Regions from separate parts of the Homo sapiens genome. Here all the other regions are reported to be linked to region 2. Evidence: microRNA targets listed by miRTarBase, many of them from high-throughput screens and not tested one by one. Region 2 holds a microRNA gene; each other region holds the end of a gene's coding sequence.
What was found. The annotated mature microRNA hsa-miR-6509-3p reads UUCCACUGCCACUACCUAAUUU and lies in region 2 at 2,311-2,332, shown strand. An mRNA with a match to its seed (bases 2 to 7 or 8) in the 3' UTR can be bound and repressed. Matches are read on the target gene's strand: a 7mer-m8 pairs with bases 2 to 8, a 7mer-A1 pairs with bases 2 to 7 and ends in A, and an 8mer does both.

Region 1: miRTarBase lists UGT2A2 as a target of hsa-miR-6509-3p. Seed matches in the 3' UTR shown: 7mer-A1 at 1,645-1,651.
Region 3: miRTarBase lists ZPR1 as a target of hsa-miR-6509-3p. Seed matches in the 3' UTR shown: 7mer-A1 at 1,202-1,208.

The regions. Positions count from the first base shown.
Region 1 is chr4:69,586,114-69,590,356 of GRCh38, reverse strand. UGT2A2 (UDP glucuronosyltransferase family 2 member A2) reads left to right here. Exons shown (of 6, transcript NM_001105677.2): 6 at 706-1,940. The coding sequence ends at 985. It overlaps UGT2A1 (UDP glucuronosyltransferase family 2 member A1 complex locus), which reads left to right. Exons shown (of 7, transcript NM_001252275.3): 7 at 706-1,940. The coding sequence ends at 985. Among named protein-coding and RNA genes, the nearest start is that of UGT2A2, 51 kb to the left of the region's middle.
Region 2 is chr7:135,205,095-135,209,337 of GRCh38, reverse strand. MIR6509 (microRNA 6509) reads left to right here and starts at 2,260; the gene lies at 2,260-2,344. It overlaps WDR91 (WD repeat domain 91), which reads left to right. Exons shown (of 15, transcript NM_014149.4): 3 at 340-547; 4 at 2,136-2,218; 5 at 3,280-3,410. RefSeq lists an enhancer at 1-479 and a silencer at 2,269-2,428.
Region 3 is chr11:116,775,056-116,779,293 of GRCh38, forward strand. ZPR1 (ZPR1 zinc finger) reads right to left here. Exons shown (of 14, transcript NM_003904.5): 14 at 1-4,004. The coding sequence ends at 3,870. Among named protein-coding and RNA genes, the nearest start is that of BUD13-DT, 3.7 kb to the left of the region's middle. RefSeq lists an enhancer at 1-13.

The sequences.
Region 1 (4,243 bases), not on the chromosome of region 2:
TTGAGAAGCCATTAGAACTGTTATCTCTGTTACTATCTCTATTGTGATGGCAAGTTGATTTAGAGCTCTAATTCTAGGGAGATGTTTCAATTGAAACATCAAAGTTCATGTACTTGGATATGCCACTTCTTAAATCACCAGAGTATTTTTGTTCAGTCTTCATGTTACAGATACAGACACTGTCCTTTTCGTCACAAACATACAGATGTGTGCCACAGAGTAATTATCACAATGCCTACATCTTAGAACTGTAAAATGACTCACTAATGCTGACTGCCAATTTCCTTTGTCTGTCATATGAACTAGCCAGACACTAGAGGATATGTTTATGTATGTCTTAAATGATTTTTATCCCACAGTATTAGGTTATGTACCATCTTGGTATTGGAACCATCCTACAGTATAGCTCACACAGTATCAAAATTATTTTTGGAAAAATTATGCTAAACATCTATATTTACAACTGGCTTACTCTACTTTTTTATGTCTACATTTGATCATACTGTGTTAAGCATATATTTCATCCATATCTTCCTTTTTGTAACTCTTAAAATCCTATACAACTAACAAAGTTCATGCAAGAATTATATTTTCTCCACGTAACTATGGCCTTAAACTTGTAGAGCAAAAGTGTATCACATATTTATCTTCAATGAAAATAAAAACAAAAATTGTCTAATTTCTGCCTATTTATTTGTCTTCTAGTTATAAAGAGAATGCTATGAGGTTATCAAGAATTCACCATGATCAACCTGTAAAGCCCCTGGATCGAGCAGTCTTCTGGATCGAGTTTGTCATGCGCCACAAAGGAGCCAAGCACCTTCGGGTTGCAGCCCATGACCTCACCTGGTTCCAGTACCACTCTTTGGATGTAATTGGGTTCTTGCTGGTCTGTGTGACAACGGCTATATTTTTGGTCATACAATGTTGTTTGTTTTCCTGTCAAAAATTTGGTAAGATAGGAAAGAAGAAAAAAAGAGAATAGGTCAAGAAAAAGAGGAAATATATATATTTTTAAGTTTGGCAAAATCCTGAGTAGTGTAGTCCTATTAATTCCAGACAAAAGGAGTTTAACAAAAACACGTCTCCCATCCTGTTTCCAAATTTTCTATTTCTCTACCTGCGATAAGCCTACTGATAAAGCCTAGATTTTGGCATGATTATTATTAACTTGTGAGTTATAGTCTTCTATTTTTCCTTTGTCTCTCCCTGCTGACTATACCCTCTTCCTGTCACTTTTCTGACACAAGGATACTACCTAATTTTAAATATGTTCTATTCATAGTATCAAATTATTTTATCGTTAACCTTAATTAATGATTAACAATATGCTGAATCCTGGTAATGCATACAGTGTAGATGGAATTTGATAGGTGTAAGGAAGAGTCAAATTCACAAATTTCCATATACCAAACAAATCAGGGAGCCACCGTAGGAGAGTAGTGTGTTATGAGAAAGGTAATGATTTCCTTTTTTAATAAAAACAAACTCTTCTGCTTGCTCAATGTTTCAGGAGTTAGAGAATGAATTTTAAGTGTGACGTGCGTCCCTATTAAATGTCTACAAAATTTTCATTAAGCATATCTAGAAAATCACGGCATAACTTGCCTGCCTTTCTTCAACATATATTCTTATATAACCTGTAGTGGAAGATTTGGGTACTGTCTTTAATAAATCAATCAATCGACTCTTTTATTTCAAGGAGAAAGTTCTATGTTATATGTTGAAGGTGAACAGATCATATTTAGAGGATATAACAATTAGAAATCTAGAAAATAATTATCATTTTTATAAAATTTTTAGTCAACTGTACAAATAATTACATAAAACATCAATTAATTATGCTTAAAAATCACTAATGTTCATAATATATAATCACTATTTGTAATCAAAAGTTTAATTTTATGCCAAAAAATAAAAAATGCTTACTTGGAATTTGATATCATTGCATTATTTTTGTCTTTATCTTCCACAAATTTTAATTTATCAATTAATTGTTATGCTATGTATATAAAAGACTAAGAGCTTCACCAAGGATATGGCATAATAAATGTTTATCAACGGAAAGCATAGTTGAAGGCAAATACTTTTACTTGATTCAGCCTTGCATTAATTTAATAAATATATTAAAGATTTTGCTTTCTTTACCCTTTATAAATTTAATGACATTTCTAGCTAAAGTGTTAATTTCAATATTTGAAATTGAGAAGATAAATTACATTCGTTGCCTTAGTGATATTTTTGAAATTCTTCTTTCTTTCACTGTTTCTTTTTTCAATTTTATGTTATTTTAAGTTCCAGGATACATGTGCAGGTTTGTTACATAGTAAACGTGTGCCATGGTGGTTTGCTGCACCTATCTGCCCATCACCTAGGTATTAAGCTTAGCATGCATTAGCTATAGGCATATAGCTAGGCATATACTCAATTTTAATAGTTTGTAAAATCTAGAAATATAGCCAAACATAGAGTCAATTGATATTTGACAAGAATGCAAAACTATACAATGGAGAAAAAACAATATCTTTAACAAATACCAGTGGACAAACTGATTATCAGTATTCAAAAGAATAAAATTGAACCCCTTACCTCAAGTCATATATAAAAATGGACTCAAAATAGATTAAAAAAAAACTAAATGTAAGATCAAGAACTATAAAACTCTCAGCAGGAAGAATATGGGTATAGCTTTCTTTCTAACCCTGAATTTTGCAAGGTTTTTAGATATGACACCAAAAGCAGAAGCAATCAAATTAAAATTGATAAATTGGACTTCACTGAAATCAAAATTTTTGTACATCCAAACACCAGCACTAAAGTCTGAAGAGAAACCAGACTTTGGAGGATATAGTTGCAAATTACATACATGGTAAATGACTTGTGTAAGAAATTTATAAAGAAAGCTTACAGCTCAATGATAAAAAAAAAATGACCCAATCCAAAAATGTGCATAAGATCTGAACAGGCATTTCTCTAAGGAATATGTAAATGTCCAATGAGGACAAATGAGCAAATGTAATGTCCAATAAGAACAAATGAAAAAATGCTCTGCATCATTAAGTTCAACATTATTACAGGAAAATTTAAGTAAAAACCACAATGAGATACCACTTCACCCTCACTAACATGGCTATTATCAAAAAGATAAGTAATTAAAAGTGTTGGCAAGGATATGGAGAATTTGGAATCTTCATACTTTGCTTGTGTGTATCAAAAATTATTCAGGCACTTTGAAACAATCTGCCAGTTTATTAAAGTTTAAACAGAGTTACAATATGACCCAGCAATTCTACCTCTAGTAATATACCAGACACAAATGGCAATAGGTCTATACAAAATTAATACATGCATGTTGATAACATCTTAACCAAAACTGGAGAGAAAACTACAGTTCATCACTGATAAATGAATAAACAATATGTTTTAGAATATTATTTGGCAATAAAAATAATAAAGTCTTGATGCATGCTATACCATTAATGAGACTTTTTAAAACATTATACTAAGTATAGATGCCAAACAACAAAGATCCTTCATATAACAATATGTCCCTTCATATGAAATGCTCTTAATAGGAAAATTGATAGAGATAAAAAATAAGTTAGTGTTTGCCTAAAATGCAGGATAAGGAATGGCTAAGGGTACAGTGTTTCTTTTGGTGGGTGATAAAATACTCTAAATCTTGTTGTTGCAGTTGTTGAAAAATTCTATGAATATACGATGAACCACTGAATTGTATATTAAAAACTTTTTTTTTGGAAGACAGGATTGCAATCTCCACCCTTTGCAGCCTCAACCTCCTGGACTCATGCCATCCTCCCACCTCAGCTTCCCAAGTAGCTGGGACTGCATGTGCACACTACCACAGCCAGCTAATTGTTCGTTTTGTTTTTGTTTTTTTTTTGTAGAGACAAGGATTCACTGTGTTGCCCATGTTGATATCAAACCTCTGGGTTTAAGTGACCCACCTTCCTGGGTTTCACAAAGTACTGGGATTACAGACATGAGCCATTGCACCCAGCCATTGAATTGTACACTTTAAATTGATAAATATGTGAATTGTATGTGTACAAATTTTTTACACACAAAAGTATCTTGAACCGTGACATCTAAGAAATGGTAATTCAGCTGTATAATTACTTTATCTCCAGTTCTGTGTCAAGGGGACTGCAGACCAAGAAGTCTCCATTTCTCACTGTACTTGACACTTCACAAACCTCTTATATGACTTAGGTGTCTAGAA
Region 2 (4,243 bases):
AAACAAAGGTGGTATTTTAAAGAATATAAGTAGCTGGGTTAAAGTTTGAGTAATAAAGATGATAGCTGACCTGGAGGAATGAGTCACTTAGTTATTTGAACATCAGCTAGGGATTAATTTTTAGGATGGGATTTATCATTAGAACTTCAGCTTAAACCAGCTTTGAAATGACAAGTTCCTTGAGAAAAGAGTGATGATTTCCTTTATATTATGGAATTTTATTTTGCCACTTACCTGGCAGGCTGATAGTCAAAGGTTGTCTGCTGTGCAATGATGAAGAGTCTTACCTCTGGATTTCTGTCTCTCCTCCCTCCTTGCTACCTCCTTGTGTCTTGGCAGACAAACAGAAATGACAAGGCTCAGGAGTTCTTTGCAAAGCAGGCCACGGAACTCCAGAACCAGGCTGAGTGGAAGGATTGGTTTGTCCTGCCCTTCCTGCCATCCCCGGACACCAACCCCACCTTTGCTACCTACTTTTCTCGACAGTGGGCTGACACCTTCATTGTGTCCCTGCACAACTTCCTGAGCGTCCTGTTTCAGTGCATGCATATCCTTTCAGTTGCCTGGGGCTGAAGGCCCAGCCTGAGGCACCCAGACCTCAGGATCAGTAGCCCGCTGGTCTCCATACAGGCATTTCTTCTACAAAAATGCCCAGGGACCATTTTTATGGGTCACATGAGGGGGCTGGACAAATTGTGGTTGTTTTTGTCAGTAAGCCAGGGAATCATAAATCTTAGTTCTGACACTGTGCTGCTGAAGTATTAGCTGACGTGTGGGCAGTGACAGTGGCAGCAGTGGGGTGCTAGTACTGGCTTTGTCAGCAGGCACTGGGGTTGGAAGGCAGCTGCTGCTTGGAGAAACCGGGCAGCCTTGAGAGTACCCTCTCTGTGCATGAAACGTGTTCCCGGGGATATACCTTTGCTGGGATTAGGTACAGATGAGAAGACTTCTTGGGTTGGAACTTCTGTCTGTGTTAGTGTTTGGGTTATTGTCTCTAATAGTAACTTCAGTGTTCCTCAAGTTGCCAGAGAACACAGTAGCTTTAAGAATATATATGCGGGTATTGGAGAGGGGGAATGAATGAGAATGCAGGTAAATAATTTACAGCCTACCAAGTGTACAAGCCAGAGCTCCCAAGGCCATTGTTCATGCTCCCTAGGCTGGAAATTTAGAGGAGGAGAAGGGAGTCTGGCTTGAATGGGGCTGGCTGGTGAGGCACTGATAAACTTGGGTGTTTAGAGGCCCACCCATGGGCAGGCGTTTTGGCCTCTGGGAGGAACACTTTCTGGTGGAGGTGGGAAGGGCACCTTTCCTGCCTTCACCCTTTCTGTGCCCCAGATGAGTGTGAATTCCACCCTTGCCAGAACTGCCTTGTTTCTTCCCCGTTGTTCCCTCTCTTCATCCTGAGGGCTCTCCAGTTAACTTTGTGGGCCCTCCAGTGAAATCGAAACTGTCACTCAAGATCTTTTCAGTGCTTCTCAAACTAGCTTACACACATATGGGCTCTAGTCCCCTCTCCAGTTCTGAGGCCCTGTCTGCTCTGTGCTCCTCCTAACTGAAGCTGCCTGAGGCAGTGGAGAAGGACCAGTATCCCAAGCTATAGACTGTCGTTGTTCTTGGGGTGGCCACGCAATCTGCAGAAAGCTTTCTCTTCTCAGTCCAAACCTTTGCCAGGGAGAGGCTCAACCTGGGGAGGCGAAGCCAACTGACTGGTCTTTTCTGCCTCATTGGCTGTATTACTGCAGAGCCACTGGCCTCCAGGGCTGCTTTTAGCTGAATGTAGTGACCTCACTAAAGCTCAGACTGGCTGTGAAGTCCACTGGATGCTAGCTCTTTGCTTCTGGTATTTGAGAGAAAATGCTTAGGTTTGGATTTATGTCCCCTCTGTGGGCTGGCCAGGCAGATGGTCATGCGTCTGTGAATCTGTCCGAATGAAATGAGGCCAGACCTAGAGAAAGTCTTAGAGACAAGACTGTAGGGAGCGACTATTTCATTAAGCCCGCAAGAGCCCACAGCACCGCTCCTATACTCTGTTCTCTGTGTCCCTGTGTCTCATGTGTTTTACTGGTGTGTCAAGGGTTTGGGAAGGACGTTTAAACATTTCAGGGGCTGGCTTATTCTTTAACTTCGTGCACCAGTCCCTGTGATCCTGAACTTTGATGCGGAGTGTCAGAGGACTAACCAGGTTCAAGAAGAAAATGAAGTTCTGCGTCAGAAGGTTTGTTCTGAACAGGCTTGCTCCTGAGGAAGTACTTCTGCTTTTTGTGTGTGAAATTAGGTAGTGGCAGTGGAACACTATATTAATCAGGTTTCCACTGCCACTACCTAATTTCTCAGATGGAAATGAGTCACCAGAAAGTCAGTATTGGGGATTTGGAGAGTAACAGTCTCTGAAAACCAGAGGCGAGATTCATATTTTAAGTCAGATATGTAGCATGAACAATATAGTAACAGTAATTAACTTTTAAGGAGAAAAAGACTATATGCATCCATGCCACCTTATAACTAACCTGTTTTCATGTGTCTGTTTTGTCTTTCCACGTATAGCTATATATGTGTGTATATATATATACACATATATATGTAAACTATATGTATATATATAAACTATATATACACACACACACATATATATAGTTTATAACCCATATATAATTTAGTTGTTCCTACTCAGCTATATGCTTCTCTAGTTTGATAAAACAATAGAGCCAGGGGACCCACATTTGCCTGTACATGTTGCCTGAGGAACATTTCTCTTTCCTGAAATTAAGATCTCCTTAGGTGATATTGTTAGGAAAAGGAAGATTATAGGCTGTTTAGGTTATGGGGTTTAAGATTCTTGGGATTTGGGGTGTGTGTATATGTAATTTTCTTCAGGCAAAAGGTTAAAAACGCTGTAGTTCATTAACAGGTTTTTTTTTTTTTTCCATTCCAGAGTCAGGCTTTGAGAGTTCTAAAGCCTGATTTTGTAGATTCTAAAAAGCAAAACAGGTTGGGTGGAGCTATTTTTCTCAGTGAATCTAGGAGGAAGCAAGTCAAATGATTAAAAAGAAAATGGGTTTTGGATTTCTAATGGTTTTTGGTTTTCTCACCTCATTGTTGTCCAGTGACAGCAGTCACTTTTCCCAGTCTGCAGTGAGCAGAGTGAGATGGGCCCCTTGACGCTGAGGCGAGTGGCACTCAGACCAGTGGGCTTGGATGCGATGTGTCTAGAAATCTTCCTCCGCAGAGGGAAGGTTAGGTGAGATCATTGGCTAACTCAGTCCCACCCCTGTATAGCTTTTTGCATTGCAAGCTGAAATCCACCGACTGAAGAAAGAGGAGCAACAGCCAGAAGAGGAAGAGGCCTTGGTCCAACACAAATTGCCTCCTTATGTCTCCAACATGGACCGCCTGGGGGACTCGGAACTGTGAGTGTGTGTGACGGCCCTTTCCTTTTCTTTGCCCTCTGTGCTCTCAGCCCCACAGTTCCCTCTGATCTTGCCTTGCCTGCAGTCCTCTGTGCCTGCTGAAGGAGAATTGCGGAAGAGCCTCCTGGCACACACTGCTCTTGCTTGAGAGCTTTATTTTTATTTTTAGAGATGGAGTCTCGCTCTGTCGCCCAGGCTAGAGTGCCGTGGCACAATCTTGGCTCAAAGCAACTTCTGCCTCCTGGGTTCAAGAGACTCTCCTGCCTCAGCCTCCCAAGTAGCTGGGATTACAAGTGCATGCCACCATGCCTGGCTAATTTTTTTTGTATTTTTAGTAGAGATGGGATTTCATCGTATTGGCCAGGCTAGTCCCAACTCCTGACATCAAGTGATCCACCTGCCTTGGCCTCCCAAAGTGCTGGGATTACAGGCGTGAGCCACCGTGTCCAGCCTTGCTTCAGAGCTTTATGAGTAAGGTCCCCATGGCCTCAGAAGTCCTCTAGGAGTTCTGAGCCTCCGAGCCTGTGGCTCTGCCTAGAGGTGGGGAACTGCACAGCTCTGCCAGCTCTACATCCAGATATGTGTAGTCAGGATAAATAAAAACGCAACCACTGTGGTAAAGTCTTGGGAAGGTTTTGTGCATTGGAAGGAGCATCTCATGTATGGAAAGATTGGTAACCACAGGTTGGATGCATTCCTCAGTAGAAGCATGCACCTCTCTGACGGTTTAAAGAGGAAGGCAGATTAGAGAGAGGTATTTGACCTTCAGAAACAGCCAGTTAAAGCAGAAGCCCCAGCTGGTGATAATAATAGTAGTGGTTGAAGAAACAGAG
Region 3 (4,238 bases), not on the chromosome of region 2:
CTGCAGTTGTATCTAATAGAACAAATACAGTAATTGTGGAGCTGAGCTTAAAATATTCAGACCTCAGGTTTCAGAGTCTGACTGGCATGGGTTTGACACCTGCCTCTTAGAAGCTCTACTTCTGGCCAGGCACGGTGGCTCACGCCTGTAATCCCTGCACTTTGGGAGGCCAAGGCAGGTGGATCACGAGGTCAGGGGTTTGAGACCAGCCTGACCAACATGGTGAAACCCCATCTCTACTAAAAATACAAAAATTAGCTGGGTGCAGTGGTGGGCGTCTGTAATCCCAGCTACTCAGGAGGCTGAGGCAGGAGAATTGCTTGAACCCAGGAGGCAAGGCTGCAGTGAGCCAAGATCGCACCACTGCACTCCATCCTGGGTGACAGAGCAAGACTGTCTCCAAAAAAAAAAAAAAAAAAAAAATTAGCCAGGCATGGTGGCGTGCACCTGTAGTCCCAGCTACTCAGAAGGCTGAGGCAAGAGAATCGCTTGAACCTGGGAGGCAGAGGTTGTGGTGAGCCAAGATCACGCCACTGCACTCCAGTCTGGGCAACAGAGTGAGACTCCGTCTCAAAAAAAAAAAAAAAAAAAAAAAAAAAAAAAAAAAGCTCTGCTTCCTTCTGGAAGTAACCTCTCTGAGGCTGTTTTGTCACCTGTAAAATGGGGATAATTTTGTTTATCCTAATTATCCCCATTTTACAGACTAGGAAAACAAGCATTGGAAGTGCCAATACTAAACTGAGGTGAACGCACAAAATAAGCAGCTTTTTCTCTCCACAGTTGGAAACACTGCCATTTGCCTTAAAAAGAAGTGTGTAAAAAACATTTTTTAATAGGAATAAAGCCAAGTAGTCTTAGCCACCACTGCCCTAAATGTAAGCAGAGACACCATTTTCTGCAGTGTGCATCAGGCACATACCACAGGTGTACAAAGAAGGAAATATACTGATGTTAGAATGAAAGTGTTGCCATCATTAAAGTTTTCAGTTGGCCAAGTCAACTGCCCTTCATACTTGCTCCCAACACTCACCTCCCCTCCTCCACTCATCATGACACAGATGTACATTCAGTACCTACCTGTATGTTCGTCCACACGTCTAATGACCGAACATGGCTGCATTTCACATACTTGACCCATGAAAGTAGGAGGCGTGCCCTCATGCATGAACCACTTTCCTTTTTTAACACAATCACAAACCTTTTCCACTTAAATGTTACTCATGGCTGTGAAACTGAATCCACATGTTCCTGGCACTTTGACTCACCTACCCTGGCCTTAAAGCGAGACCCTTTCCCTATCTTTTTACCTATAGATGTTATCCCTAGTGTCCTAATAGGGTTTAATCTATGATGGAGGATTTTAACAGATTTTATTAACCATGTGTCATATGCTGGGTGCTGTGGAGCAAGACTCAGTTAACTATATGTAAGCTCCCATCCTGACACACTTTATGAAATGAGAAAGGAGCTGAAAGATAATTCAAGAGAAGGGTATGAAACTGAAGAATGCCTTGTCATCAAAGGGCAGGAAGTACCTTAGCTGGGTTATCCCAGTCTGGCACCTGGTCCTCAGTCTTCAAGTTCAGAAACTCAGGTCATCATTTCCTAGGAACTGGGTGGATTCTGGGAGATTGCCTCACACCAACCAAACTCACAAGAGATTCAGTAATAAGCCAGAGTGCCATTTTTTTTCCTTCACAATGGAAAATGAACCTGATACTGCAGTTTATCTTAACAGAGCACACCTACACTATGGGGAAGTCTACTTAAGAGACCAAATGATAGATCAGAGGGTTGTCTGGTAAACTTAGATTCCCAAGTCAGCTGGAAACATACCTAGAGATAATCTCTTAGGGTAGAATAGTTGCCTGTGAGAAGTTTGCCCAAAGTACTGAAGCTTTATAGTTTGAATGAGTCATTTGCTAACCTGAGTCTCCAAACACCTTACTCTCGCCCTCACTTACAGAAATTAGAGATACAGGTATGGAAGTTAGTCCCACATGATAGTAAGATGCCAAAGAATCTGATATGGAGAGATGTCTGAAAGCAGAACTCTCAGAAACAAATTTAGTAAGAGGGGAGGAGGCAAAGTGTCCAAATAAGAAATATTCAAAGTGAAGGGAAAACCAAGGGTACAGTATCTCGAGAGCCAAAAGAAGGGTTAAGAAGAGATGGTCCACTATCAAATGTGACAGAAATAGATAACACTTTCCAAGTGGAAAATCACTTGTGACCTTTGAGAGTAGTTTAACAGAGCAACGAGAGTAGATGTCTGATTGCTAAATCATCTCTAACTCATTCTTCAGAGTTAAGTTTGCAACACAGCCGGACGCGGTAGCTCACGCCTGTAATCCTAGCACTTTGGGAGGCCAAGGCTGGCGGATTGCCTGAGCTCAGGAGTTCGAGACCAGCCTGGGCAACACGGTGAAACCCCGTCTCTACTAAAATACAAAAGAAATTAGCTGGGTGTGGCGGCGTGCGCCTGTAGTCCCCGCTACTCGGGAGGCTGAGGCAGAATTGCTTAAACCCGGGAGGCAAAGGTTGCAATAAGCCAAGATCACACCACTGCACTCCAGCCTGGGCAACAGCGCGAGACTCTGTCTCTACCAAAAAAAAAAAAAAAAAAAGTTTGCAACACAAAGCAATAAGGTTTGTGATAACATCTTAATCAATGAACTGGTCTTTATTGAACAAATACCCTGCAGTCTGCACCACAGGAGTCACCTTTTGTTTATGAGAGGCAGGAGACTACAGTGCAAAGAACACTGGCTGGGAAGTCCAGGGCCCAAGCAGCAGAGTGTTCACTGGTCCTTAACTTTCAGAAGAACTGCAGAGAGCCTCCTTTCTCTCTGGATGAATGTGTTTCAACATTTCTAACTGAGAGTAGGGCTAACTGATCAGGTACCCCCACTGGCTCTAACCTCACAGCTCTAGCATTTGCAGTTCCCTCTGCCAGGAAATCTCTTCCCCCAGATACCCACACAGCTCACTCCCTGACCTCCTCCTCAGCTTTGCCCAAATGTCAAATTATCACCTTCTTGTTCAGAAGATCTTCCCTACTCCCCATTTCCTTGCACAACCCAGCCCCATTCCCTGCTTTACATTCCTCCATGACACTAATCACCATCTGATGTACTGTTTTCCTGATCTGTTTATTGTCATTTTTCCCCACTAGACTTCAAGTTCCATGAAAGAGATTTATTTTGTCCTCTGTTCTGTGGTGTGCTTGGCATAAAGTAGATAAGCAAGCATCTGCTGAAGGAATGAATTAAATGCCAGCTGCAATCCCCAAATTACAGTAGATACACGGGAAAATTTTCTTTAGGAGGCTGAATTCTAACAGCATGATATCAAACAAGGATAGGGTCAATACAGAGGCCAGTGCTGTTTGAAAGTCATCATTTCAATGGTAACTCCTTCACTTGTGCTGGACTCGGTCTCCCCTCAGGAGACTCCTTTCCTGTTCAAAGTCAGTATTTTATATACTCAAAACCAACAACAAACTCCAGGTGTAACTTTATTCCACCTTCTCCAACTTCAGAGTTCCAACCTTAGAGGATAGAGCATTATGTGGAAGGAGGGTGAGGACTTGATATGAAAAAAGTGATGACATACCCCTGGTTCATTTCTGGGTTTCCTCCTAGGCCAATTCAAAACTTCCAAAATAAGGTCAAGTAACACAATAGGCTCACACTTGCATCACAAGCTGTTTAGAAAGTGTGCACAGATCTCTGACTCAGACCAGATGTCCTCCCCACCATGGGCAAGGGCTGGTGGGAAAGACACTCCCAGCCTTCGCCTTCATCCAATACTAATAAATAACCTACAGAAAGAGCAGCGCTGGAGGCTGGCCCTTGAGCCACCCACTGCTACCGTTGCGGAGCCAGGCCTGCCTCATAGCCCTCTGTCTTCATGTCATTGAGCCCTAGCTCCTCATTTTGGTCAAAGGTGCGCTTGTAACGCTCCACCTTCATCTCAGGATCATCTTCAGGCGCATACACATTCTGCAAGGTCAAGGAGAGACAATCAGTGCCGCTGTGCCACTCCCCCTCTCTGCAGGCAGCTTCCAATTCCCACCTTCCCAAGAACAGAATGAGTTTTGGGTTTTTTTCTTTTTATTGGCCTCCAATTTCCCATGGCTAGACTGAACTAGTGGGTAGCAACAGAGCCCACATGGGCCAGGGGTAGAAGACCCCAGCCCCAGAATCAGGGAACAATCCACCTATTTTGTTATATCT